Linked DNA regions of Homo sapiens. The protein of the gene in region 4 purifies or fractionates together with the protein of the main gene of each other region. This does not show direct contact. Each region holds a gene or a part of one and is shown on either strand. Other genes may lie near its edges. The genes, in order: RRP9, C1QBP, SNU13 and FBL.

Region 1 (6,002 bases), on a different chromosome or scaffold from region 4:
ACCTTGTTCCCAGGGTAAAGGATGGTGCTGTGGTGATGACAGTCCTGGTGTGTCTGCCTGGTGGGTCCTTGGATCTGATCCAGACTGCCCCCGTCATGTCTGGGGATAGTGTCACCCTTTCTGCTCTCTTGTGTCGCATCTCTGGTTTCCGGTATCCCTTGCCTTTCTCTTTCCCAGTTTACCCTCTTGTTTGGGAGCACAGCTTCTATCCTTCCTAAAGAAAAAGAGGGAGAAAATTCCATGGCACCTTGCACACCTGGCAGTGTCGTCGTTGATTGTTTGACTGGGCATGGCATTTTAGGGGTCAGTGTATTCCTCCAGAGCTTTGTGTGTGAGGCTTCTTTGTCTTCTTGTTCTCAGTATTGCTGTTGAGATGCCTGCACATTTTGATTCCTGACTCTTTGTATGTGACCTGATTTCTTTTGGAAGCCTGGTTTCTCTTGGAAGCCTCCTCTTTCCCCCAGAGTTGAGAGGCTTTAGTGATCTCTTTGGGATTTGGGTCTGTTTCCACCCCTACGTGGGGCACTGAGTGGGGCCTTTTAGTTTGGGGAGTCACATCCTTCAGTTTTCTGCAGTGTAGTCACCGACCATGTGGGCTAGCAGGGAATAGGGGAGGTTGGATGGCAAGGTGAGCATCCAGAAGGCACGATCCTAGCGGTCAGAGGAACAAGGTGAGCCCCTCAGACCCAGCCCCTTCCTGCCCACAGCCTAGCTCCAAGGAAGCCTGAGGAGGAGGAGGAGGAGGAGCTGGAGGAAACTGCACAGGAAAAGAAGCTGCGCTTGGCCAAGCTCTACCTAGAGCAGCTCCGTCAGCAAGGTGAGCCAGTGGGCAGGCCAGCCATGGGCAGGGCTTCTGCCTGTGCTGGTCTGCTGCCCGCCGCTGCAGCCCCAGCCACTTGATGGGTGACTGACATGGATTCCCAGTGGGTGCCCAGGCTGTCAGTGCTGGCTGCCCTGTGGGGGTGGCCAGAAGCTCTCATGGGCCTCCTGGGGAGCCCGCAGGGGGCTGATCTGATAAGTAAAGGCAGGAGGAAACCCTCCAGCTTGCCCTCCCCTCTGCTGAGGCAGCTGGAGCTTCCTGCATTATCCAGCCCTGGGGCAGTGGGATGGGGACAGGATGGAAGGGAAAGAGGGGTCTCAGCCTCAGTTTACTTGGTCTGGTCTGTCCTGCACAGAGGAGGAGAAGGCTGAGGCCCGTGCATTTGAGGAGGACCAGGTGGCGGGGCGCCTGAAGGAGGATGTGGTAAGTGTGGAGGGAGAGTTGGGGGAGGACGGGGGTGGAGCTGATCTGCTCCCAGGGTCTCATCCATCTCTTCTCCATGCAGCTTGAGCAGAGGGGCAGGCTGCAGAAGTTGGTGGCAAAAGAGGTGAGTGGGCATGGTATTTTGGTATAAGGTTGGAGGGAATTGGGGGCCCCACTTGGAACATGGTGGACACTTGGGCCTATCTGGTCAGGTAAGGATCTGGTTGTTGTAGCCTTGGGTCTTGTTTTCCTTCTGGCCTGGGTGGGAAAGGCCAACACTACGCAGTGGGGTTGGTGAAGGTAGTGCCTTTATGCCACTAGCCACAGTGACCTGGCCCCTGTCTGCCCAGATCCAGGCCCCAGCCTCAGCTGACATTCGCGTTTTACGGGGGCACCAGCTCTCTATCACATGTTTGGTCGTCACCCCCGATGACTCAGCCATCTTCTCTGCTGCCAAAGACTGCAGCATCATTAAGTGTGAGTGAGTGCCTGGGTGGGGCTGGAGCCCCCATGGCGGATCCGGGAGGGCTGGTCAGGGGAGTGGGAGTGGTCATGGCAGGCTGAGCCCTGAAGTGGGGAAGTCTCTGGAGGCAGGTTTGCTGCCCTAGGAGTGCTCTCTGGGTGACAGTGAAAGCTGCTGCCCGGCAGTGGGGCTTATGAGCTCCCTGTCCCTAGAGACCTTTGGGCAAAGTCAGGATGATGATTTAATGGGAATTAATGCTGCAGGTAGGTGGTTGGACTAGAAGACATTTGAGGCTGTGCAGTCCTGGGATTGAGTGCCCGGTCCTCCTGGGTTCCCATCCGTTGCTGGCTGACCAGCGGTTCCTTCTACACCCGCTGTAGTAACAGAAGAACTCACACCATCAATCCCAAAGCCCTTTTACATCCCTTCTCTTTTTTGGGCTTTGTGGCTGCTGTTTGGCACTAATGTCCCTCTTCATAGATGAGGAAACTGAGGCAGCTTGTCCGGAGGCTCACGGTGGCTGAGCCAGGTCTTCTGGCCGAGTCCGGGACATTTGCCATGGCTCTTTTTTCCATGCTGCCCCTTGAGGGGGGTTGCCAGCCAGCCCTATCCCCCCATCCCAGTAGCTTCTCCCCCACCCCCAACTGCAGGGAGCGTGGAGAGTGGACGGAAGCTGCATGTGATTCCTCGAGCCAAGAAGGGTGCCGAGGGAAAGCCCCCTGGCCACAGCAGCCACGTCCTCTGCATGGCCATCTCCTCCGACGGCAAGTACCTTGTAAGGCCAGGTTGGCCCTGGGGGCAGGCGGGAGGTCTGGTGCATGGTGGGTGCCTGTGATCATTGTCTTCATCCCTGCAGGCCTCTGGTGACCGCAGCAAGCTCATTCTCATTTGGGAGGCCCAGAGCTGCCAGCACTTGTACACCTTCACAGGACACCGGGATGCAGTGTCGGTGAGGAGCTGGGTCTATGTCAGTGGATCTTTAGTGGGCACATGCTAGTGTTCTAGGCTCAGTGCTGGCCTCTGGAGTCTCTGTCCTCAGGGAACCTGCATCCTGGGGTAGCGAGTGGGTAGCGAGTGGTGCTGTAAAATACATAAATGGGCTAAAGGGATGGGGAGGAGCTGGGGGAGACCGGGCCGAGCTTGCTCAGGAATCAACGAGGGCCTTGAGAAGCCGCCTCTGGGCGGGATGTAGCGGCTCTTGCCTATAATCCTAGCACTTTGGGAGGCCGAGATGGAGGATCATCTGAGCCCAGGAGATGGAGGCTGCAGTGAGCTATGATCGCACCACTGCACTCCAGCCTGAGCAACAGAATGAGACCCTGTCGCTAAAAAAAATAAATAAATAAAAAAGACGTCTGCATCTGCTCAGGGGCAGATGGGCATGTGGGCAGTACAAAATTGCCTCACAGCACGTGCCACATGGCTTGCTTTTTGGGAAGTCCTCCCTGGGCCTGACCTGTCTCTCGCCTGCTGTAGTCCAGGTCCCCTTTGCCCTCTCCCCATGCACCCTTAGGGTCTGGCATTCCGCAGAGGCACCCACCAGCTCTACAGCACATCCCACGATCGCTCCGTGAAGGTGTGGAATGTGGCAGAGAACTCCTACGTGGAGACGCTGTGAGTGTGGATGGGAGAGGGTGTGTGGATGGTGTGAGAGAGGGTGTGGGAGTGTGTGCCCGTGAGTTCATGCAGTACCCCTATCCCCACTATCCTGCTCTGCCCGGCCCTCTAGCTTCGGACACCAGGACGCTGTGGCTGCACTGGATGCCTTGAGCCGGGAGTGCTGTGTGACGGCTGGGGGCCGGGATGGGACTGTACGTGTGTGGAAGATCCCCGAGGAGTCCCAGCTTGTCTTCTATGGCCACCAGTAAGGTGGCCTGCCATGCCAGTGGGGGCTACATGGGCTGGGGGTGGGCTTGGGCCACGCTCCTCACAGCCCCTTTCTCCAGGGGCTCCATCGACTGCATCCACCTAATCAATGAGGAGCACATGGTGTCCGGCGCGGACGATGGGTAAGAGGTCCTTTGGATGTCTCTGGCCACGGCTTCTGCTCCTGAGTGCTGGCTGTCCACGGGGCCCTGAGCTTGCCTCAGGGCACCCCCAGTGGGGGAGCTGTTGTAACCTCTTTTCATGGATGAGGATGATGAGGCAGAGAGCTCAGATGGCCTTGTCCGGGCTGTGTGCCCTTGATCCCTTCCTGTCATGTGGCCTTTTTTCTTTTTTTTTAGAATTAAAAAAAATTTGTTGTGGGTGCTTAGTAGGTGTACGTATTTGTGGGGTACTTGAGATGTTTTGATACAGGCATGCAATATGTAATAATCACATCATGGGAAATGGGGTATCCATCCCCTCAAGCATTAATCCTTTGTGTTACACAGGGGGCCTTTTCTGCCTCTGGCCCCCTCACTGCTGTATTCCCTCCCTGTTTATAGCTCTGTGGCCTTGTGGGGTCTCTCCAAGAAGCGACCACTTGCCCTGCAGCGTGAAGCTCACGGGCTGCGGGGAGAGCCAGGCCTGGAGCAGCCCTTCTGGATATCGTCGGTGGCAGCCCTCCTCAACACAGACCTTGTGGCCACAGGTGGGTGCCCTGAGAGGCAGGGAGGAGGGGTCGCCGGGTGGGCCGGTGCAGGGGTTGCTCACTGTTCCAGTCTCCCCAGGCTCCCACAGCTCCTGTGTGCGGCTTTGGCAGTGTGGGGAAGGCTTCCGGCAGCTTGACCTTCTCTGTGACATCCCCCTGGTGAGTGAGTGTGCTTGAATGCTCAGCCTGTCTCTGCCACACTGCCTAGGCCCCTGGAGTTAGCTCTTTAAGGTCTTTCTTCCTGCCAGAAGGGAACCTTCTCAGGGCAGGGCCAGCTCCTAGCACAGGGCCTGGCAGGAACCCTCCCCACTTTCCCTCCTCTGCTCCCCTTCCTATCCTAGGCCCTGTCCAGGGTGCTGGGGTACAAGTCAGGGAGCAGCATGGGGAGAGGCATGGAGGCCTGGCCCTGTGATGAATTCTGTACTGCTGGTGCCAGATTGGGTGCCAGGCTAGAGGGTGTGGACCTCACTGTCCACACTAGGGTGACCTGGGGGAGGGTGGCAGGATCTGTCAGTGATGTGTGCTGAGAATGCAGGGTCTAGGTCAGTGGGGACAGTCATGGGGTCTCCAGGGCCCCACCACCAGGAGCCAGCCTCAGGCCATACTGGGTGTACACTGCCTCCTTCATCCTCACAAACTCACTGCTAGCCCCGTGCTCTGCTTACCCCCATCTCGCAGATGTGGAGGCTGAGGCCCTGACAAGTGAAGGGCTGGCCTGTGTCACCAGGTGGCAGGAGGCAGAGCAGGGATTTAACCCAGGCCTGATAAGGCCCAGCCCTTGACTGTGATGCTGAGGACGGTGGTGGCGGGGGGCGTTCTAATGTCTTTCCGTGTTGTCTTTCTGCTCAGGTGGGTTTTATCAACAGCCTCAAGTTCTCCAGCTCTGGGGACTTCCTGGTGGCTGGGGTAGGGCAGGAGCACAGGTATGTGTGGCCCTCGAGGGTTCAGGTAAGGTGGTGCAGGCTGGACAGCTCGGTGGAAATGGGGTGGAGACTGGGCCGAGTCTCAGCTGCGTCTTGCACTCCCTGCAGGCTTGGCCGATGGTGGAGAATCAAAGAGGCTCGGAATTCTGTCTGCATCATCCCACTCCGCAGGGTCCCTGTACCCCCAGCTGCTGGTTCCTGACACTCTTATCCTCCTTATTTAAGTCCTTCCCAGGCTATGCCCCACCCTCTTTGTATTAAAAGCCTCCTCTTTTGGGCCTTGTTTCTTGTAGCTTCTTGGTGGGGGTGGGGGTGCATGAGGGACTGGGTGGGAGGCGGCCTGGGGAGGGACAGGACTCCAGCAGTCTCCTAGCTCTGCCCCTCTGCTAGCCTGAGGGCTGTTATCCTTTTCCAAAGAACTTGGGATGGAGACCTCAACTGGCTCCTGGCTCCTGTCCCTGCGTGTCCTGCACGACCTCCTCAGGCTAGCTGCCTGCCACTGCTCTGGGTGGTCGGGGTCAGAAGCTACTCACCCCTCAGCTCAGAAGCCAGGGCTTGTAAGGGCTGGTGCTGGGGTCAGGACTGGACTGTAGACAGCGGACCTGCACATCAAACTGGCTTCGCTTCCTCTCCCAGGTCAGGTCAGGAAGCTGGAGGGGACAGACTGCCGTGAGGTGTGGGGGTCAGGAGTGGGAGTGGGACCCTGCACTGGTGGGCTTACTGTTTGGAGACAGGGGTCCAAGTTGGGAAGAGCTCTGTCTTTGGTCTGAATGTCAGAACCAGGACCTACCTGCCAGG
Region 2 (7,372 bases), on a different chromosome or scaffold from region 4:
AGGCAGTCTGAGGTTGACAAAATCTGTCTAATTCCAACTGTGCTGACTAAGCTGAGCTCCTGGGCACAGAAATTGAATGACGTTCATCAGAGCATTATTTTTAATGGCCCCCAAATAGCTATGAAAACCTTGCGCAAATGGTGTTTAGGTGAGATTACAGAAGACACAATTGACCTGTGTAGGGCAAAAACACACTATGCAACAGGCAAGAGAATCAGGACCCTACTTCACACCATATTCAAAATGAATCACAGACCTAAACTAAGAGCTAAAACTAGAAAACTTTGAAAAAATTAAGGCATACATCTTCACAACCTTGGGTTAGGCAGTGGTTTCTTAGACGTGACACTAAAAAAGCACAAGTTGCACTTGGTGAATTAGAAGCAAAGTAAAAAATAAATAAAAAAGCACAAGCGACCAAAAAAATAGGTAAACTGAACTTCCTCAAAATTAAAAACTTTTGTGTCAGAGGACATTACCAAGAAAGTGAAAAGGAAACCCACAAGATGGGAAACAGTACTTACAAATCATTAATTTGATAAGATAGTTGTACCCAGAAAAACTTAACTTTTACAACCCAACAATTAAAAAGGTAAATAGGGTGGGCAGGGTGGCTCACACCTGAAATCCCAGCACTTTGGGAGGCCAAGGCGGGCGGATCACGAGGTCAGGACTTTGAGACCAGCCTGGCCAACACGGTGAAACCCTGTCTCTACTAAAAATACAAAAATTAACCGGACGCACGCCTGTAATCCCAGCTAAGGAGGCTGAGGCAGGAGAATTGTCAGAACCTGGGAGGCAGAGGTTGCAGTGAGCCAAGATCGCACCACTGCACTCCATCCTGGGTGACAGAGCAAGACTCCGTGGGGTTGGGGGGGGAAGCTACAAATTGTATGACTCCATTTATATGAAATGTCCAAAAGAGGCAATCCCATAGAGAAAGTAGCTTAGTGATTACCTGGGGTGGCTACAGGGAGGAATAATGAGTGACTGCTAATAGGTATTGTTTGGGGATGACAACAGTGTTCTAGAATTAGGTAGTGATAACTGATGCATAATTCTGCGAGGACTAAGAACCACTTAATTTAATAAACTTCAATAAATGGGTAAATCGTATGCCATCTCAATTAAATCTCATAAAAGCTGTGATTTAAAAAAATTACATACACATCATAAGGTCAATTATGAAGGAAATTCAATTTATTTATTTATTATTGAGATGGCGTCTTGCTCTGTTGCCCAGGCTGGAGCGCGGTGGCGCGATCTCGACTCACTGCAACCTCCACCTCCCAGGTTCAAGCGATTCCCCTGCCTCAGCCTCCCGAGTAGCTGGGACTACAGGCACGTGCCACCATACCCGGTTAATTTTTACTAGAGCCAGGGTTTTAGTGTTAGCCAGGATTTTCTCCTGACCTCATGATCTGCCCGTCCCAAAGTGCTGGGATTATGGGTGTGAGCCACCGCGCCCAGGCTCAATTTAAAAACCTGGAAGATGCCAAATGTTTATCTGTGTAATGAGATTATGGATGACTATAATGCAGAAAAGTGTAAACACTTTAACAGTTTAGGAGATGATGGGGGAGCTGACTTAGGTCACAAACTCCCCACCTCTGATGGCAGCCCTTACTACAGTGTAACCCCATCCTGTTACATAGAAGTTACATATTTTTCATTTTCACCCATACTAAACATTAGAGAGCAGTGTCCTATTTTATCAGGGCTGTAAATCAGAGATCAAACTGATTCTGCCAGTACTTTTTTGCACTACATTTTTGTCTCCTTAGTAACCAGCCCACAGCAAATTTGTGTTCGGTGAATGGACTGCCTGGGGCTTACGAAGTTGTCCAAATGAATCCTTCACTCTCTTGAAACCCATTTATCAAAGTATCCACACCTGAACTCAAGGCTCTTCTGGGGATGACCCAGGATGGGTCCTGCAAGGTTAAGGGAGTTGCTGCCCTGGGATCCCCAGACCAGTACTTACTTTTCCCCGGCAACTTTCCGCACTAATTTCGCTTCTGTCCCATTCAGTTCCAGCTCCCAACCTCCAGACATCTTAGGGAGGGTTTTATGCTTCTGAATTTTTCTTTCCTCCTTAATTTCATCACTCAGGAAATCAACAAAAGCTTTGTCTCCTAGAAAAGAAATCCAGATACATAAAAAGGAAAGCCAGTTAGTCTAAAACATAAAACTATTACCCAGGTTATTGCAGCCAGAAACCTGGACTGTTTCTAATCTCTCTGCTATTACGGTTACTCTAGAAGCCTGTTTCCTTATCGGTAAAAATACCATAATAGTAGTAGGAAGCTGAGCCTGATTCTGGAAAAGTGATTTCCAACAATGAACGCATTACCACTTTCCGCTATAAACCAGGAGAATTTCCAATCCTCTTCCACTTGCCAAACGATATAACTATGCTATTTTCAACCACGACCATGGGCCTTCCCAAAGGTCCACTTTCGATAGAATAAGACTAAGGAAAAAGGTACCCTAGTATTTAATTTTATTCACCCCCTACCAAAAGAAAACGAAACTGCTGGATAGGGGAGGTGGGGGAAATATGATCATACGTGGGTTTAGCCCGCTGGTTGCCAATCAATGGAAAAATGTCCCAGACCTCAGAGGTCGGTTGCAGGCCCTATTCCTGGTCTACGTTTTCCCTCTGTTGAACGCAAACCACACCCCCGGCCCGCTAAACCTCACCGTCGGTGTGCAGCGAGCCGCAGCCACAGCCACAGGCGCAGGGTCCGCGAGGCCGCAGGAGGCCCGGCCGCCGCTCGGAACCTGCGCGCACGCTGAGCAGCCCGAAGGGCCGGGTGCACAGCCGGGGTGCCGGCTGCAGGAGCTGCCGGAAAGGCGAGGCGGGCGCGGCAGCGCGGAGGCCGGCGACGGAGGAGCCCAGCACACGGGGCACGCAGCGCAGCAGAGGCAGCATCGCGGAAACGACTGCGAACACGTGCAGATGCAAAGGACAACCCAGGCCTAGGCGCCCCGCGACCTGAGGCGCCGCCGGAAGCCCCGCCCCTGCCCGGAAGCGCTTCCCGCGCCGGCGCTCTGACGACCTAAGGCCAGCGGGCGGAATCGCGCCCTCTGCTGGAGACTCCGGTGCAGCCCGGGAAGCCTCGAATCCGGATTCCGGAGCTTTCTTGCTGCGCTGCCGAGTCCGCTGTCCGAAGCTGTTTAATTCCCTCTAGTGGCCGCTTACCCACTTTCCACCTGCTGTTCTCAAAGCACGCAAGGCTTTTGGGCTGCGTGGAATGCACTCTTGTCTCCCGCCAGCTCTCACCAGACCCTTCCACGGTCACTTTCCTCTAGGAGGCTGTGGTGTTATGATATATATATGTATTGGTTTTCATCCACAGTTCCTGGGTCGTAACTCCTATAGCCCTTGTTACAATGTTCTGTGATAATGTTGGGTGTGTTAGGCCTCAGGAAACAGACTCTCCCCTTCTCCTGCCCTCCTTTTACCTGCCCCAAAGCAGGACTCTAATCTCCTTCCACATTTCTGATTATGGGTCTTAAGTCCCTTCCCAGAGAAGGTCCCACCATATACCCTGGGGGAAGGGATGCTGATGTCCAGAAGCTTCCATAAAAACCCAAGAGGAGAGGGTTTGCAGAGCCTCTGACAGCTGAATACGTAGAGGTTCCTGGAGGGTGGTGGCCCAGGGTAGGCAAGGAACCTCGGAGCTTCTTCCCCATTCCCCACCCTGCTCATCTCATCTGTATCCTTGGTCATATCCTTTATATGAAACCGGTGAATGTGTTTCCCTGAGTTCTGTGAACTGCTCCAGTGAGTTAACATAATCCAAAGAGGGGGGTCGTGGGAACCCCAACTTGAAGCGGGTTGGTCGGAAGTTTCAGAGGCCCAGACTTGCCATTGCTGTCTGAAGGTGGGGGCGGTCTTGGGGACTGAGCCCTCAACCTATGGGATCTGACACTATCTCCAGGTAGATACTGTTGGGATTGAATTGGAGGACACCCAGCTGGTGTCTGCTGCTTAGTGTGGAGGGGAAAAACCCAAACCTTTGGCCACATAAGTCTTCTGTGTTGATTGTTGTGTTGTGAGAGCAAAGGAAAGTCTGAGGGTTTTCCTGAAAGAGGCCTTCTAGAACCTTTTTTTCCACCGGCTCGGAACTCATGCTTGTGCGCACCCAGCCCATATGCTTCATTCTCTTTTCAACAGGAACCTCCTAGCGTTGCTGCTTTAACCAGGTTAAACCCAACCAGACTGTGACATCCTCAAGGGCAGGATCCATGATTAATTTTTGTGACCTTCCCTCTCTGCACCTCCAACCTTGCATCCAAGTTCTAATGGAACATCATTTTTCTGGGGACAAGAAGCCAGCTTATATCATTTAGATAAGTCCAGAGGCTTCCATAAAAACCCGAGGACAGGGTTTGGAGAGCCTCTGATAGCTAAATACATGGAGGTTCCTGGAGGGTGGTGGTCCAGGGACGGCATGGAGGCTGGGAGCTTCTTCCCCATTCCCCACCCTGCTCATCTCCTTATCTGTATCCTTGGTCATATCTTTTGTATGAAACCGGTAAATGTGTTTCCCTGAGTTCTGTGAGTTTCTCCAGTAAATTAATATAACCCAAAGACAGGGTTCAGATTTATTAAAAATCAACAATCCTACCTTCCCAGGATATACAGGACATATAAGCTACTAAGAAGGTATGTCTTACTAACTCATGGTAAGACTAACACTTAATATTTTCTAAATAATTTTCTATGAATAATGGAAAAGAGATGCAAGAAACAAGCCACACACATCATATACAAGATTCATTTTTAATGGATTTGATCGTCGGGTGCAAATTTGAGCATTATTTACAAGAGCTTTCTGTAGAGTTATTTCTGTTCAAATAAAACCAGACTCTCAAAATACAACATAAGCCTGAACCTACTTGATTTTTTTTTCTCCCTCTAGTTACCAAGGAATATCGTATCTCAGATGCATGGCCTACTATCACACTGGTCTTTAAAGAAAAAAAAAAATGCATGGCCACAGTTCCAGGCAGTTCCTGGTAGCTGGATTTAGTGGATTTATATATGACAGTACAGTACATCATCAGTTTCACCCACAGGGCAGAACTTGCCTCCATTCAGGCATCTCTTTACAACTGGCAGCAATGCAGCATTAAGGGTTTTTAGCCAGGACCTGCTGTTTGCAGTCCTGCCCCTTGTAGTGTTACTCTGGGTGTTGCACACTCCATGATTACTAGAAGACAAACACCTGAGGCATGCAATCTGCTTGGAGTGCATCTATTTACATGAAGCTGCTCACGGGAGCTGGTGATTCTTCCAGATATGGGTTTCGTAGGTTGGCAAAGAGTTATCACACCATCAGAGATTTTACCAATGGAAAGAGAGTAGCTGAAGATTATATTGCAATGTTATTGTGAAACATTTAACTTTCTTAAGTTTAAAGTGTACTATCTCCTGCAGCTCAATATAAACAACGATGTATTTCTTTGTAGCAGTATGTGGAGTCAGAATGGGTTTTCCAATCTGATTTAATCCCTGAGCAGCTATGTTAAAAGTTAACTTTTTAAAAAAGCCCAATAAAAAACTAAATACTGTATTAAAACTCTACCACAATGTTACAGGGATAAACTTATTTCTGTACAGAAACATTAAAGCTACTTAGAAGCTGTTTACATCCTTTGCCTCTCAGAAAAAAAATATACATTTCCGGAAACTGTTCAGGTACTTAAGCTGGACATAAATTACCCCAAGTTTTTTCTTTTTCTTTCTTTCTTTCTTTTTTTTTCTGAGACCGTCTCACACTGTCGGCCAGGCTGGAATGCAGTGGCGTGATCTTGGCTCACTACAAACTCTGCCTCCCAAGTTCAAGCAATTCTTGTGCCTCAGCCTCCCCGGTAGCTGGGATTACAGGCGTGTGCCACCATGCCCAGCTAAGTTTTCTATTTTTAGTAGAGACGGGGTTTTGCCATGTTGGCCAGGCTGGTCTTGAACTTCTCAAGCAATCCACCCACCTCAGCCTCCCATCCCAATGCTGGGATTACAGGCATGAGGTGATCCGCCCGCCTTGGCCTCCCAAAGTGCTGGGATTACAGGTGTGAGCCACTGCGCCCGGCCACCCCCCAATTTTTTTTTTTTTTTTTTTTTTTTTACCAGCACTATGAATGATTAAAAATACAATATTTTTCTTACTAAGTAGGACTAAACATTCTAATCCCCTACTGGAAAACAAAAAACAAAAAACAAAAACTGGAAAACTTTTCAGAAAGTCAGCAGTGGTAACAAGTCAGTAAGTGGAAGAACTGGTTCAAAGTTTAAGAATTCAGTAAGATAAGGTATATAGGAGCTGTCAGATCTTCTTTTGCCCACGTATAACCATTTCTGACAGACAGCCCTAAACACTAGCTGAGAGCTTGACTGCACAGGACCACGGCTAGTGTTGGAAATAAAGACTGAGCCGGACTTGACATACACAACTCCGGACAGATGGGACCCTGGAATGGGGCTGCTCCATCAGGCCACAGCTTCCAGAAAGAGAGCATCCATGATCTCTGAAGAGCCTCTTGGGCAGCTTGGCCCCTGGTTATAACTATGATTCATTCATTAAGAAATGACAAAACACCCCACAGATGTATTTGGACCAAGTAAGCACAATAAAAGAGCTAAATCACGGCTTCTTCTAGGGCAAAATATTATCTGGGGAAAGATTACTTGCTTCTGATAATTAAATAGCTAAGAGGAACCGTTAGTGCCTTTTCTCTGCTCAGAATATCAGAACAGGAACAGACTGTGGATATCCTCCAATTCCCTCTGACAATGAGGGTTAGAGAGAGGTGCCTAGCAGTTAGAAAGCAGCAAAGCCAGATTGTCCCAAGTCCCTACGAAGAAGGAAAAAATATCATAGAAAATTAATAAGATGCAAGAATAAGTGTTACAGCTCTAGCTCTTTTAGAATTTGTCCAGCAGGTCTTCTAGACTTCACTGAACTGCCCCCCACCCCCCCCGCCCACACACCAAAAAAGATACAAGAATGTAAGCCCAGATGTGGTGTGGTATCTGGCATAAGCCAATGTTCTCTGGGTTCTAGGTACCCCTCTCCCCTCCCCCACCCCCACCCCCTCTGACCAGGGGACTGCCCGAAAAGAAACAGCTGAAATGGTACACAGTCACTCCTCATGCCCGCATGTTCACTGGTGCCCAGTTAGAGAGAAAAATGGCAACTGTGTATGTGGGAGTCACCTACACACACAAAACACTGATAGGTCAGTTTCCCATGTCTACACGTGACAGGATTCAGAAGGTACAAATCAACCTTCACCCAGGAAGCTTACATGTCTCCTGAAAGCACTGACAGGGTCACGCACTGAGGACCAGGAGGCTCCTTTA
Region 3 (7,026 bases), on a different chromosome or scaffold from region 4:
TGTTTCAGCCTCCCGAGTAGCTGGGATTACAAGCATGTGCCACCATGCCCGGCTATTTTTTGTATTTTTTTAGTAGAGACGGGGTTTTGCCGTGTTGGTCAGGCTGGTCTCCAACTCCTGACCTCAAGTGATCTGCCTGCCTCAGCCTCCCAAAGAGGTGGGATTACAGGCGTGAGCCACCACACCCAGCCTAAACAATTTTTTTTTTAATTAGCCAGGAGTTGGCCGGGTGCAGTGGCTCATGCCTGTAAACCCAGCGCTTTGGGAGGCTGAGGTGGGCGGATCACAAGGTCAGGAGTTCAAGACCAGCCTGGCCAACATGGTGAAACCCCGTCTTTACTAATAATACAAAAATTAGCCGGGCATGGTGGCGCATGCCTGTAATCCCAGCTACTCAGGACGCTGAGGCAGGAGAATTGCTTGAACCTCGGAGGCAGAAGTTGCGGTGAGCCGAGATTGTGCCACTGCACTCCAGCCTGGGCAACAAGAGCAAAACTCCGTCTCAAAAAATAAAAAATAAAATAAAATAAAATTAGCCAGGAGTGGTGGCCCACACTTGTAGTTCCAGTTACTGAGGAGGCTGAGGCAGGAGGATCGCTTGAGCCCTGGAGGTCGAGGCTGCAGTGAGCTATTGTCATGCCACTGCACTCTGGTCTCAGTGATAGAGTGAGACCCTGTCTCAACAACAAAAAGGGTGTAATTCTTTTTTTTTTTTTTTTTGAGATGGAGTTTCACTCTTTCGCCCAGGCTGGAGTGAAGTGGCATCATCTCAACCTACTGCAATCTCCGCTTCCCGGGTTCAAGCCATTCTCCTGCCTCAACCTCCAAGTAGCTGGGATTACAGGTGCCTGCCACCACACCCAGATAATTTTTGTATTCTTAGTAGAGACGGGGGTTTCACCATGTCATCCAGGCTGGTCTTGAACTCCTGACCTCAAGAGAGCCACCCACCTTGGCCTCCCAAAGTGCTGGGATTATAGGTGTGAGCCACTGTGCCTGGACTGCCCCAGCTAAGTTTTTAAATATTTTTAGAGATGGGGGTCTCACTGTGTGGCCCAGGCTGGTCTCAAACTTCAGGCCTCAATCAGTCCCCAGCCTCAGTTTCCCAAGTTGGTGGGATTATAGGCCTGAGCCACTGCAGCCAGTTCAGAATACACTCTTCAAACATGGAACGTTTTTGAAAATTGGCCATAAAGCAAGCCCTGCAAATTTTAACATTGGTAATATTACATACCATTTTTGCCTAACCCAAAAGGAAATAAGTTAAAAATTAGTAACAAAGTAGTTTGAAATGAAAAATATAAACTATCAGAGAGATTTAAAAATTGTAGTAGGAATTCAAAAATAGAACAGAACAATAATGAAAATACCACATACCAGAGCATAAGTGACAAGGGCAGAGGGGGGAAGAAACAAATGAAAGGATATAATGAAAGTATTACTTGGAGCCTAAGATGCTAATGCTAGGGAGAAACGGGATAAAAAGGTAGAAAAAAACACTAGCACAAAATAACCCCAAAGAAAGTAGAAGGAAAGAAAAAAAACAAAAGGAGAAATTGCTGAAATAGAAAGTAGAGCATACTGCTGGGTCTTTTCCTTTCCGAAGCCCCTCTTTCTCACCAGAGAGAGCTGTTCTTTCTCTTTCTTTTGCCTATTAAACCTCTGCTCCCGGCCAGGCGCAGTGGCTCACACCTGTAATCCCAGCACTTTGGGAGGTCGAGGCAGGTAGATCACCTGAGGTCAGGAGTTCGAGACCAGCCTGGCCAACATGGCAAAACCCAGTCTCTACTAAAAAATACAAAAATTAGCCCGGTGTGGTGACGCGCACCTGTAATCCCAGCTACTGGTGGGGGCTGAGGTAGGAGAATTGCTTGAACCCAGGAGGCAGAGGTTGCAGTAAGCCAAGATCGCACTACTACACTCCAGCCTGGGCAACAGAGCAAAACTCCATCTCAAAAAAAACAACAAAAAAAAACCCTGCTCCTAAACTCCTGTGTGTCCATGTCCTAAATTTTCTTGGCATGAGACAACAAACCCTGGATATTTACCCCAGGCAACGAAGCTAGTTCAGTTTGACACTGTTGTCAAAGTTTTGGGGAATTAGTCACTGTCATGCATTGCTGGTGGGTGTGCAAGTTGTTAAACCCTATATAGGGTCAATTTAGAATAGATATAAAAGTTACAAATGCATATTATATCTTTTGACTCGTTAATCCCACTTCTAGGAGTTTATCTTACAGATATACTGAATGAAACATAATATAGATTAGGTATAGATGAGATTAGACATTATAGCATTTACATAATAGTGAAAGATTAAAAAATATATAAATGGGCTGGGCACAGTGGCTCACACCTGTAATCCCAGTACTTTGGGATGCCCAGGCAGGAAGATTGCTTGAGGCCAGGAGTTCACGACCAGCCTGGACAACATAATAAGACAGTGCCTCTAAAATTAAAAAATTAGCCAGACGTGGTGGTGCATGCATGTAGTCCCAGCTACTTGGGAGTCTGAGGCAGGAGGACCACTTGAGCCCAGGAAAGTCCCCCTCAGAAAGATTAATCGAAAAAATAAGGCCAGGCACGGTGGCTCACGCCTGTAATCCCAACACTTTGGGAGGCTAAGGCAAGCGGATCACTTGAGGTCAGCAATTGGGAGACCAGACTGGCCAACATGGTGAAAGACCTTCTCTACTAAAAATACAGAAAAATTAGCCGGGCGTGGTTGTGCATGCCTGTAGTACCAGCTGCTCTGGAGGCTGAGGCTGGAGAATCGCTTGAACCCCGGAGGAGGTTGCAGTGAGCCAAGATGCCACCACTACACTCCAGCCTGGGTGACAGAGCGAGACCCTGTCTCAAAAAAGAAAATGTTTAAGTAGGTAACATGTGAAGGAGACATACTCTATAGACATTAAAAAGAAAGGATGGCCAGGTGCGGTGGCTCATGCCTGTAATCCCAGCACTTTGGGAGGCTGAGGCAGGCAGATGACCTGAGATCAGGAGTTCGAGACCAGCCTGGCCAAAGTGGTGAAACCCCGTCTCTACTAAAAATACAAAAATCAGCCGGCCGTGATGGCGGTCACCTGTAATCCTAGGTACTCAGGAGGCTGAGGCTGCAGTGAGCCGAGATCGCGCCACTGCACTCCAACCTAGGCGACAGAGGGAGACTCCGTCTCTAAATAAATAAATGTATGAGGAAGAGAAAAATAATATGGAGGTCTTCCCTTGACCTCCCCCAACCCCCTTCCTTTAGAGAACTCCTCCATCCTTCACCTAATTCTTCCTAGTTGTCCTGGGACCAAGACAAATTCGCCTAAGATAAGGAGTTACGTAGAAGACAGGGCGTCCTGGTGTACGGGCTGGCCCTGGACGTCACTTCCGCTGGCGGCAGTGGCGTCACTTCCTGCTCTTGGGGGCGGGGCATCCGTGTCCTTGCGGTGCTGGGCAGCAGACCGTCCAAACCGACACGCGTGGTATCCTCGCGGTGTCCGGCAAGAGACTACCAAGACAGACGCTATGGTGAGTGTTCCTACTGGGCCATTATCTCCGGGTCACCTCCCGAGAGCTGTGGTGCCGCGAGCGTGGTCCCGCTGTGTCAGAAAAGCTGTAAAAAAACGGAAGGAGGAAAAGGCAGGTGCGCGGTGTCGGGCAGGAGACCACCGAGGCAGGCGCTATAGATGAGTGGTCCCACCAGGCCATCTCCGTCTCCAGCGACTGCCGTCCACCCTATGTCCAGCCTCCAAGGCCGAGGTTAGGTGGTAGCCGCAGTGAATCACTCGCGATTCGCACGTTACACACGATGGCGACATGTGGGGCCGCACCTGGGTTATAATATGAATATATCCTTGTATATAAATATGTGTTTGTAAAAACAAAAAAAAAAAGAGAAAAATTAATGAAAATGATTTACTGGAGCAGTGGGAATGAGATGGAAGGAGCGGAATAGGCAGGCCACTCACCCAATATGCTCCCTACATGGGTGTGTATTTATTTATTTATTGAGACGGAGTCTCGCTCTGTCGCCCACGCTGGAGTGCAGTGGCGCCATCTCCGCTCATTGCATCCTCCGCCTCCTGGGTTCAAGCTATTCTGCGTCAGCCTCTCGAGTAGCTAGGACTACAGGCGTGAGACACCGCGCTCGTCCCCTACATGGGTTATTTTGACACAGATCTGAATGACATCATTTTATCCATAAGTATTACAGTATATATCTATAAAGTAAGAATTTTTAACATAACTGCAAATGCCATTAATTAGTTAATAAGGGTTGCAAGTTGGTGATATTTAACTGTACCATTCCCTCTTTATTTATTAGGCGGAAGAGTGATACAAGAGGTACTTCTCATCTTCTACCTGGTTACCGCCTAATACAGCATTTAGGAAAGGCACAGAAGATGATTGTTTCCCTTTCCCAGTTTTCAAAATATTGAGTTGCTATCACTTGCATAGTTTTGACTTTTAAACCATGAAGATATTTTACATATTTGAAAAATAAAATTTAAAGCAAGCTGACTACAAAATAAATCTACTTGTATACCAAATTGCTAACCACAAGGAAAATTTTAATTTGAATAACTTTTGAACAAAGTCCTGCCACTGGATGGCTTTGATAGGATATATCCTAAGAACAAAAATAAATTTTGACTTTGGTGAGTTTGTTGGTAGAGGTGGTATATTGGTGTAGCAATTTTGGAACCATTTTGTGTGTATTGTAGAGGAGGTGAGGAAATACTTTAATGTGTTGGAAACCATGGGTTTGAACAGAAGATACGCATATGGAGTGGGGAATGGAAAGAAAACTTTGTGCTACATTTACTGTAAATTATATCTTATTGATTCAGTAAATTCAGGTGGAATACGGAAGTTCAAATTTAAAGATTACCCATGGACTCCTGACCTCAGGTGATCCACCCGCCTCGGCCGCCCAAAGTGCTGTGATTACAGGCGTGAGCCAGGAGTTTGAGACCAGCCTGGCCAACACGGTGAAACCCTGTCTCCACAAAAAATACAAAATTAGCCTGGCATGGTGGTGCACGCTTATAGTCCCAGCTACTTGGGAGGCTGAGGCACAAGAATCATTTGAACTCGGGAGGCAGAGATTGCAGTAAGCTGAAATCGCACCACTGCACTCCAGCGTGGGCAACAGAGCAAGACTCCATCTAAAAAATAAAAACAGAAATGGATTAGCCATGGACTCAAATGGATGCGGAGCCATGGGAACCCGTTTGTAATCCATTTGCTGTAATATTATCAAACATTCGGCTGAAGAAAGACAAAAGTACATGAGCTTTAGTATACTTTACTGAACTGTGTAATTCCTAATAGTGTATTTCCTTTTTTTCGAAGGTAGGAGTGGAAAGTCCATTGTTAACTACCTGGTGTTTTGTGTGTTTGAGGGTTAGGGAGCAGGGCAGCTGCCCCCTGTGTCTCAATTGTTGATTAGTATTTTGTGACTCAGGTAGGAAAACTTCTGGCTCAATTTGTCTGATATTTTTATGTCCCCCCCATAGACTGAGGCTGATGTGAATCCAAAGGCCTATCCCCTTGCCGATGCCCACCTCACCAAGAAGCTACTGGACCTCGTTCAGCAGTCATGTAACTATAAGCAGCTTCGGAAAGGAGCCAATGAGGGTAAGGCAGCCACAGGATGCTCTGGGGGAATGTTAAAGGCACCTGTTTCCATCTGGGGCCTCTGATCTGATTTCCAGTTTGGGAGGAGGGCTAGCTGCTCTCGACTACAACCAGTGGGAGGACTTTGGCATTAGATGCTAAAGCTGATGGGCTAAGAATTTTTTTTAGACCCACCAATTGTTAACATTTTGCCACATTTACCTTCTTTTTCACTCTATAAGTGAATTTTATTTTTGCTGAGCCATTTGAAAGCAGTTGTGGAGACTGTATAGTGGCTGTATGACCTCACCAGAGCCATCAGAAGGAAAGGGATATTAATGCTTTTTAGCATCCCTTATACGGTGGATACTTAACATTCATGAATTTCATTTGGTTCCCAGAAACATTCCCTACCCCTCTCCCTTTTTTTTTTGGATGCAATTATTCAAAAACATGGAACGTTTCACGAATTTGCATGTCATCCTTGTGCAGGGGTCATGCTAATCTTCTCTGTATTGTTCCAATTTTAGTATATGTACTGCTGAAGCGAGCACTACCTCCCTTTGTAAAAAAGGAAAAAAAAAAAGCTGTTTTTCAGTAGAATAATTATGTATGCATGATGCTTCTGCCCAGAGGTGATATAGGATACTCTCACTTTATTCATTATTATTTTTTTAATTTTATTTTATTTATTTATTTATTTTTTTATTTGGAGAGTTTTGCTCTTGTTGCCCAAGCTGGAGTGCCATGGCAGGATCTCAGCTTACTGCAACCTCCGCTTCCCGGGTTCAAATGATTCTCCTGCCTCAACCTCCCAAGTAGCTGGGATTACAGGCATGCACCACCACGTCCAGCTAATTTTGTATTTTTAGTAAAGATGGGGTTTCACTATGTTGGTCAGTCTGGTCTCGAACTCCTGATCTCAGGTGATCTACCTGCCTTGGCCTCCCAAAGTGCTGCTGGGATTACAGGCGTGAGACACTGTGCCCAGCCTTATTTTTATTTTTATTTTTTTTCAAGTAGAGACGAGGTTTCACCATGTTGGCCAGGCTGGTCTCGAACTCCTGACCTGAAGTGATCCGCCTGCCTTGGCCTCCCAAAATTCTGGGATTACAGGCGTGAGCCACTGTGCCCGGCTGCCCAGCCTTATTTTTATTTTATTTTATTTTTTTGGAGACAGAATCTCGCTCTGTCGCCCAGGCTGGTCTTAAACTCCTGAGCTCAGGCAATCTGCCTGCCTTGGCCTCCCAAAGTGTTAGGATAACAGCAGGCGTGAGCTACCATGCCCAGCCAGAATACTCTCATTTTAATAGATGCTGGGTAGTTTGATGTGGTAGAGCTCTTTTGTCGTTGAAGATTTTTAATGGAAACATCAGAGATTTTGTCAACTGTGTTTGAGATTTAGGAGAACTATTA
Region 4 (7,050 bases):
CCTTAATAAAGTTTTAAAAATTAATACATGTGTGTTTGTTTGTGTGGGCTGTCTTAAAATACCATAGACTGAATGGTTCCAATAACAGAGATTTATTTCTTACAGCTCTGGAGGCTGGAAAGTCCAAGATCAAGGTGCTGATTGATGTGATTCTCTGTGAGGGCCCTCTTCCTGGGTTGCATCTCTCCCTCTCTCCCTCTTAAAAAGTCACTAATCCTGGCCGGGCACGGTGGCTCACACCTGTAATCCCAGCACTTTGGGAGGCCAAGGTGGGTGGATCACCTGAGGTCAGGAGTTCGAGACCAGCCTGACCAACATGGAGAAACCCCGTCTCTACTAAAAATACAAAATTAGCCGGGCGTGGTGGCTCATGCCTGTAATGCCAGCTACTCTGGAGGCTGAGGCAGGAGAATCGCTTGAACCTGGGAGGTGGAGGTTGCCGTGAGACGAGATCATGTCATTGCACTCCAGCCTGGGCAATAAGAGCAAAACTCTGTCTCAAAAATAATAATAATAATAATAAAGTCACTAATCCCATAATGAGGGTTTACACTCATGACCTCCTCCAACCCTAATCCCTCCCAATGCTGTCACTTCCAAATACCATAACAATGGGGGTGAGAACTTCAACAAGTGAATGTGTGGGGAGACAATTCAGCCCATGGCCATGTGTTATCTATACCATCAACAGGGTGGGAAAAAATGGAGAATGAATAGACTGGGGGCAAGTGATAGGATTGCTGGTCAGCATTAAGCATTTGGGTTTGTAGTCATGAATCAAAACCGAGACCAGCCAGGGTGATTCTGTATTTTTCTCCATCCACATTCAGCTGCCAGGGGTGCAGGTGCAGAATAAATGGAGGGTTGAATTCAGTTCATAGTTTGGAGGTATGCAAAGGTGTGGTAATAATGATGGTGGGGAATCTGGCTAGGTAGTTGAGAGTGGTGTGGCCATGATTGGGGGAGGGATAGCAACAAGTCAGACAGCTTAATGGATGGTTAGGGCTGAAGGCTCACTGGTGCAATCTTTAGAAGGAGTGAGCTGGAGAGACAGGAGGTGACGGGCAGAGCGTGAGATGCATGGAGCTGAGATTCTGTAGGGGCTGTGGTTATGCGGCTGTTGCCATCTAGAATGGGTCCTTCTCCCCCACCAGGCTGGGACCTCTGGGGCTGTCACAGTTATGTGTTGTTGTGTGTTCCCAGCACAAGGTCTAGGTGTGATCATGGGAAAGAAGGGTTGGGTGGAGGACAAGTGCAGTGGGGGAGAGGAGGTCAAGGCACCAAGAGGCCAGAGTGGTAAAAGGATCATTTACCTGAATTTGAAAATCACCAAGAATAATGACAGGAGTGGTGTGGGTGACAGTGAGCCTGAAGCTAAATGACGAGGTGAGCAGAGGTGACTTGGGAGTCAATGGGTCTAGCAGCACAAAGGGGAGCAGGTGCTACAGTGTGACTGTGTAAGCTTCAGACCTAGGGTTCAGGGAGGAGGCAGAGACAATGGTTTAGAAGTGCCAGTGAGGAGCAAGGACGCTCTTCTCCCATCTACAGATCCAGTGGACATGAAGGCCGAGAAGGAGAAAACAGCCCCGCTTGGAAAGGGAGGTCTTCAGGGCAGAGTCCTCCTTAGAGCAAGAAGGTCACAGGAAGGTTCAGAGGGAGTTGAGGAAATGGGGAATATTGGGAAAAGTCCTCAAGGGCTTCGCTATCCCTGCCCTGCCCTGCCTGCCAGTGTCTCCTCCATCCCCCTCCCACCTCTCTGCCTGGGCCTCCCCTATCCTGGCCCTGAGCCCCCTGCCTGGGGCTCCCCAGTCCCATTTCTGCCGGTGCTTCCCCCATTGCCCTCCTACCCCTCTGCCTGTCCCAGCCCTGACCCCTCTGGGCCAACACTGTTTGGGAACCTGTCTGTCTCTCCTATTGGACTGGCAGCTCCAGGAGGACAGGACCCGGGGCTGTTTTAGCCACCATTGTGTCCCCAGCACAAGACCAACAGGCACCTCCACCACTAATTACTTACCGATAGAGCCAATTTCAGGTCTTCAGAGCAAGCTAGCAGGCAAAGTATCTCAGAAGCAGGAGATGGTGCCAGGATTCCAAGAAATAGGGCTGGAATCCCCTAAATCTGCACTGCACTCTGAGTACTTTTGTCCTTTAGAAGAAAAATATTAATTAGAAGGCAAATAGTAAAATCCATGTGAAATAGGTAACATTATCCGGAATTGGACCCACTGGAATCATTGCACATCTAGAAATCCAGAATAGACTCAACTATTTCATCTCATAGTTTTTAAAAAGTTTTTTTTGTTTGGTTTTTGTTTTTGTTTTGGGACAGGGGTGTCGCTCTGTGACCCAGGCTGGAGTGTAGTGGTGCAGTCATGGCTCATTTCAGCCTAGACCTACTGGGCTCAAAGGATCCTCCTGCCTCAGCCTCTTGAGTAGCTGGGACTACAGGTGCAAGCAACCATACCCAGCTAATTTTTTATTTTTTGTAAAGATAAGGTCTCACTCTGTAGCCCAGGCTGGCCTTAAGCTCCTGGGCTCAAGCGATCCTCCTGCCTCGGCCTCCCAAAGTGCCTGGATTACAGGTGTGAGCCACTGCCCCGACCGGTTCTGAAAAGTTTAAGCAGATTTTCCATCATAATATCTAAACAATCTTTCAGGAATGTTTCTGTGCAAATTGGTGGCATTCCACAGCTGGAACACTGTACACAGAGAACTCACAACGGTATGAGGCCATCCATTCATTCAACAAACATTTACTGGGCACCCAGAGGGCTGTCCTAGGCCTAGAGTGATAGAGCAGTGAATGGAACAGAGTCAACATCTAGGCTCTGGACTGGTAGGTTCTTCTGGAGTTTTTCGGTAACTTCTCATAACAGCAGTTGTCTTGCTTTGCAGAATGAATATAGGGATGGATACTGATATTACACAATTACAAAGCCCAAAATTCTTAATACTTAAGCAGAATCTGTTGACCCCTGACGCCGCTCTCTGCCCCCACTCTGATCTGTCCATCCTTTTCTTCTGATTCACGGCAGCAGCCAGTCCTTGGTTTTCCTGCTTTCACCCTCACTCCTGCAGTCTGCTTCCCACATGCAGCCAGAGGGACCTGTGTCAGATCACATTCCTTCTCTGCTTGGAACCCTTCCATGGTTCCATCTTACTGCCTAAGTCCTCACTATGTCCCACAAAGCTCCGCACAATCTGCCCTTGTTAGCTACCCGCCCTTATCTCCTCTTACTCTCCACCTTGCTCACTTTGCCCCACCCACCCTCCTCATTGTCTCTCCAACTTCCCATATCTTTCCTTCCTCAGGGCCTCTGCATCTGCAGATCTTTTCCCTGCCTGGAACTCTCTTCCCCTAGATAGGTGCATGCCTCACTCCTCACTTCCTTCAGCCCTTTAGCTCAAAAGTCTCCTGATGCATTCCTTGACCACCGTGCCAAAAAAACAAAAATCATTTGCCCTCCAAAATCTCTATCCCCTTTCCCTGCTGTTATTTTCTCCAAAGCACTTATCGCTTTCAAACATTCAACATGTTTGGTGTCTATTTCCTCCATTAAAAAGATGAACTCCAGGAGAGTGGAGATTTTTATGTCTCGTACACCGCTGTATTCCCAGCTCCTAGAACAGCACCTGGTACACACGAGGTGCACTGTAAATGTTTTTCGGATGTTTGAATGGAAGCCCAGAGTCGGTCACTGTTCTTGGGGCTGGAAATGTATTGGGGAAGCCTTTTTGGGTGTACAGGGGCCAGAGGGATTTAGCTAGGAATACAAAAGAGGGCACAGCCCGTGCGAAGGCTATGAGCCCTGATTATTGGGGTGCTCGCATTGGGGAAGAGGAAACCGGAAGCGAGTTTAGGGCGACCGCTGCACAGGCAAAGGCTGGGAAGGCAGAGAGCGAGGGCAGCGGGTTGCGTGTCGACAGGCTCGAGAATCCAGGCTCACTGCGCGTGCGCCGAGCTCCGGGCGGGGAAGGGGCCCGGGGGCGGGACTACGGGGTGGCGTCACGCAGCGCACGTCGCCGCGCGCCTGCGCTCTTTTCCACGTGCGAAAGCCCCGGACTCGTGGAGTTGTGAACGCCGCGGACTCCGGAGCCGCACAAACCAGGGCTCGCCATGAAGCCAGGTCAGGCTGGGGTGAGGGTCCGGGGTCAGGGACGGAGGCCGGGCGGGAATCCGGGTGCCAGGCCAGAATCGGAGGGGTGGGGCCTTGGCCTGGGGGCAGGGGTTCTGAGCACGGGTTCCAGTCTCCTGTGGGAAGGGGGATTCTGATTCCAGCAGGTCTAGGGGTTTGTGACTGGCTTCAGAGGTCACGGTCGTGAGTCGAAGAAGGCCGTGGGCCTGGCATTGGGGGTGTTGACGTGGGGTTCGTCTCATTGAGGCCGTCTAATAGGGATTTTGGATATTGGGCAGGAGGCGGCACTCAAGGGTCTTGGGCTAGAGTTTGGATTCAGGCATCTGGAGTCTTGGATCGCTGGGCGTGTTTTGGGAATCAGGCTTGGGTCGGAGATGGAGAGTTCCTGACCTTGGGTCCTGGAGCTGTGTGTGGGAAGCCCCCATTTGCCTTCCCTGTCGCTGCCACCACCACCATCCCCTTATCCCGCATCCCAGCTTTTCCGAGTGGGCCGGAGTGGATGAGGACTCCCCGGTTGGCCGTGTGCGGCGCTCTTCGGCTCACTTTCCCGCCTTCTGCACTTACAGTGGGGCGGATCCCCGGGGATGGAGTGGAGATTTGGGGATTAAGATTTCCACCTCCGGGACGAGACTTAACAAGCTCGGCATTAGTCTGGGGTGGTGGGGCGGGTGGTTGTCACAGGAGGTAAGTAGTTTTATTCTTAAGATTTTCCACTAGATTCTGCTGAAACCACTCCCTTCATGGTGGAATGATGAGGGGGTCCTGGCTTTGACAGCAGAAGGGCCTCAGTTCAGTGTGTCAGCTCTTGCTCAGCTTCTTAGCCTGCTGTGTGAACTTGGGCAAGTGGCTTTACCTCTCTGAGCCTCTGTTTTCTCATCAATAAAATGGCGCCAGTTAGGATTAAGCGACGTTAAAAAAAATAGCACAGTGCTTGACATATAATAGTATTAGCTCTAATTGTTACCTTTATCTTTCTCAAAGAGAACAACATTAGAATCCTTCTCGGTGGTGCCTGAGCACTTCCTCCATCTGGCCTGCCCAACCCGCACTCATCTGTGTGAGAACTTGCTTCATTGAGTTTGGAGAATTTCCACCATGGCCCAAAGGGTCTGTTTTCCTAGTACAGGCTTTCTTTTTCTTTTGTGTGTGTGTTTGTGTGGAGAGATGGGGGTCACCTGGCAGGAGATTTGTGGATCTGTGCCCTTCTCCCAAGTTCCCTTTCTCTTCCGTGTTTGGGGATCTCTTGATGAAGTGGGGTGGGGGATTGTAGGCCAGGTATGCTGAGATCCTGGCTTGCCTGCAGGCATTCTGGTCTGTGATTCCCTCATAAATGGAGGATACCCGTTCTTCCAACCTTCCTCCATGTGTGGTAGAATGTGAAGTTGTAAAAGTTGTCAGGTGTTAGCTCTTTAGTAAGGATTTTAGCCTGAGTGAGAAAAGAACCCTTTGGGAGATTTTTGAGCAGGGGCGTGGTGCAGTCTGACATTTTTAAAAGGGATTCTTTTTGCTTCGATGTGTGAAAGACCTCAGGGTGGCAAAAGTGGAAGCAGGCACATTGGTGGGAAGCTTGTTGCTGTAATCTAGGAGATGGTGTGGTGGACCAGGATGGGAGCAGTGGACATGCTGACAGTTTTACATGCTTTTGAAGACAGAACCAACAGATTGTATGTGGGTGTGTGATCGGAGTCAAGGATAACCAAGGGTTTGGGGGTGTGTAACTGGAAGGATGGAATTGCCATTTTTGAGATGGAGAAGGCTGTGGAAGGAGAGCAGATTTTAAATCAGGGGGTTTATGGACCCCCCTCCCCCCAAAAAAAGAACTTACTGGAAAAGTTTGTGTGAACATGTGTTTTTTCTGAGGACTGGGTACTTTTGGTACATTTTCCCCCAAAAGCTCCAGGACCTGAAACGGATTGAGATGTTTTGAGTATCTGGGATTGAAAGTTTACACTCATGCCCACTCCGCCCCAAGCACATGCCAGTACTTCCTTTCTGTTAGGCCTGGGTTGAGACTTTCATAAGCCTAGCTGTGGCATCTCCCCTAAATGAAGGTCTTGGCTTTGGAAAACTGTTGGAGGGCTTGGGCAAGAAAATTGAGATCTGAGTTGCTGTTTCAAAAACAGCACTTATTAGTTGCTGTGTGGAAAGTGGACTGTAGGGGGAGTAGAACATTAAAAAGTGAACAACTCTTAGTTATGTTCTAGAGTTTTGAAAAGGAAACTTCATTTTAAAAGATCAAATTAGGAGTAGCTATTAAAAGTTACATTTTCATCTTTAATAGAAAGATGAAAAAAGAACTAACTGGAAAAGTTTGTGTGAACATGTGTTTTTTCTGAGGAATGGGTACTTTTGGTACATGAGGAGGGAAGAGGAGACGCGTACCCCTGAGTTTGAATGATGATGTTCAAAGTAGGTGCCAGATAGTATATATGTGATGTGCTCTGTGGGTACAAGTCATTTAATCTTTACAACCCTATAGGATGAGCACTGCATTTTTTTTATTTTTATTTTTTTGATACAGAATCTCTCTCTGTCACCCAGGCTGGAGTGCAGTGGCACCATCTCAGCTCACTGCAACCTCCGCCTGTGTTCAATTGATGCTTGTGCCTCAGCCTTTTGAGTAGCTGGGATTACAGGCATGCGCCACCACGCCCAGCTAATTTTTTGTATTTTTAGTAGAGACAGGGTTTCACTATGTTGGCCAGGCTGGTCTTGAACTCCTGGCCTCAAACTGTCCGCCTGCCTGGGTCTCCCAAAGTGCTGGGATTACAGGCATGAGCTATGGCGCGTGGCCTGGCACTGTATTGTCTCCATGTCTTACAGATGAAGTTTTCAAGACCCCTATGAACCTTCCTTACTAGGGTCGAGAGTGGCAGCAACATTGCCTATCTCTCCATATGCGATACTTGAGGGG

What was found.
Region 1: the proteins of FBL (region 4) and RRP9 purify together in Homo sapiens (affinity purification with mass spectrometry; 5 studies listed by BioGRID and IntAct, with this or other methods). This does not show direct contact.
Region 2: the proteins of FBL (region 4) and C1QBP purify together in Homo sapiens (affinity purification with mass spectrometry; 6 studies listed by BioGRID and IntAct, with this or other methods). This does not show direct contact.
Region 3: the proteins of FBL (region 4) and SNU13 purify together in Homo sapiens (affinity purification with mass spectrometry; 5 studies listed by BioGRID and IntAct, with this or other methods). This does not show direct contact.

The regions. Positions count from the first base shown.
Region 1 is NC_000003.12:51,932,910-51,938,911, reverse strand, and holds the end of RRP9 (U3 small nucleolar RNA-interacting protein 2), read left to right. Parts: intron 1-707; coding exon 708-817; intron 818-1,175; coding exon 1,176-1,243; intron 1,244-1,325; coding exon 1,326-1,367; intron 1,368-1,593; coding exon 1,594-1,720; intron 1,721-2,356; coding exon 2,357-2,481; intron 2,482-2,562; coding exon 2,563-2,655; intron 2,656-3,219; coding exon 3,220-3,320; intron 3,321-3,435; coding exon 3,436-3,570; intron 3,571-3,652; coding exon 3,653-3,715; intron 3,716-4,135; coding exon 4,136-4,281; intron 4,282-4,360; coding exon 4,361-4,440; intron 4,441-5,130; coding exon 5,131-5,204; intron 5,205-5,312; coding exon 5,313-5,406; 3' UTR 5,407-5,483; downstream 5,484-6,002. UniProt on the Homo sapiens protein: Component of a nucleolar small nuclear ribonucleoprotein particle (snoRNP) thought to participate in the processing and modification of pre-ribosomal RNA (pre-rRNA).
Region 2 is NC_000017.11:5,436,139-5,443,510, forward strand, and holds the start of C1QBP (complement component 1 Q subcomponent-binding protein, mitochondrial precursor), read right to left. Parts: upstream 3,018-7,372; 5' UTR 2,936-3,017; coding exon 2,704-2,935; intron 2,136-2,703; coding exon 1,985-2,135; intron 1-1,984.
Region 3 is NC_000022.11:41,678,849-41,685,874, reverse strand, and holds part of SNU13 (NHP2-like protein 1), read left to right. Parts: intron 1-3,287; exon of another isoform or gene 3,288-3,516; coding exon of another isoform or gene 3,517-3,519; intron 3,520-5,510; coding exon 5,511-5,631; intron 5,632-7,026.
Region 4 is NC_000019.10:39,843,368-39,850,417, reverse strand, and holds the start of FBL (rRNA 2'-O-methyltransferase fibrillarin), read left to right. Parts: upstream 1-4,038; 5' UTR 4,039-4,117; coding exon 4,118-4,127; intron 4,128-7,050.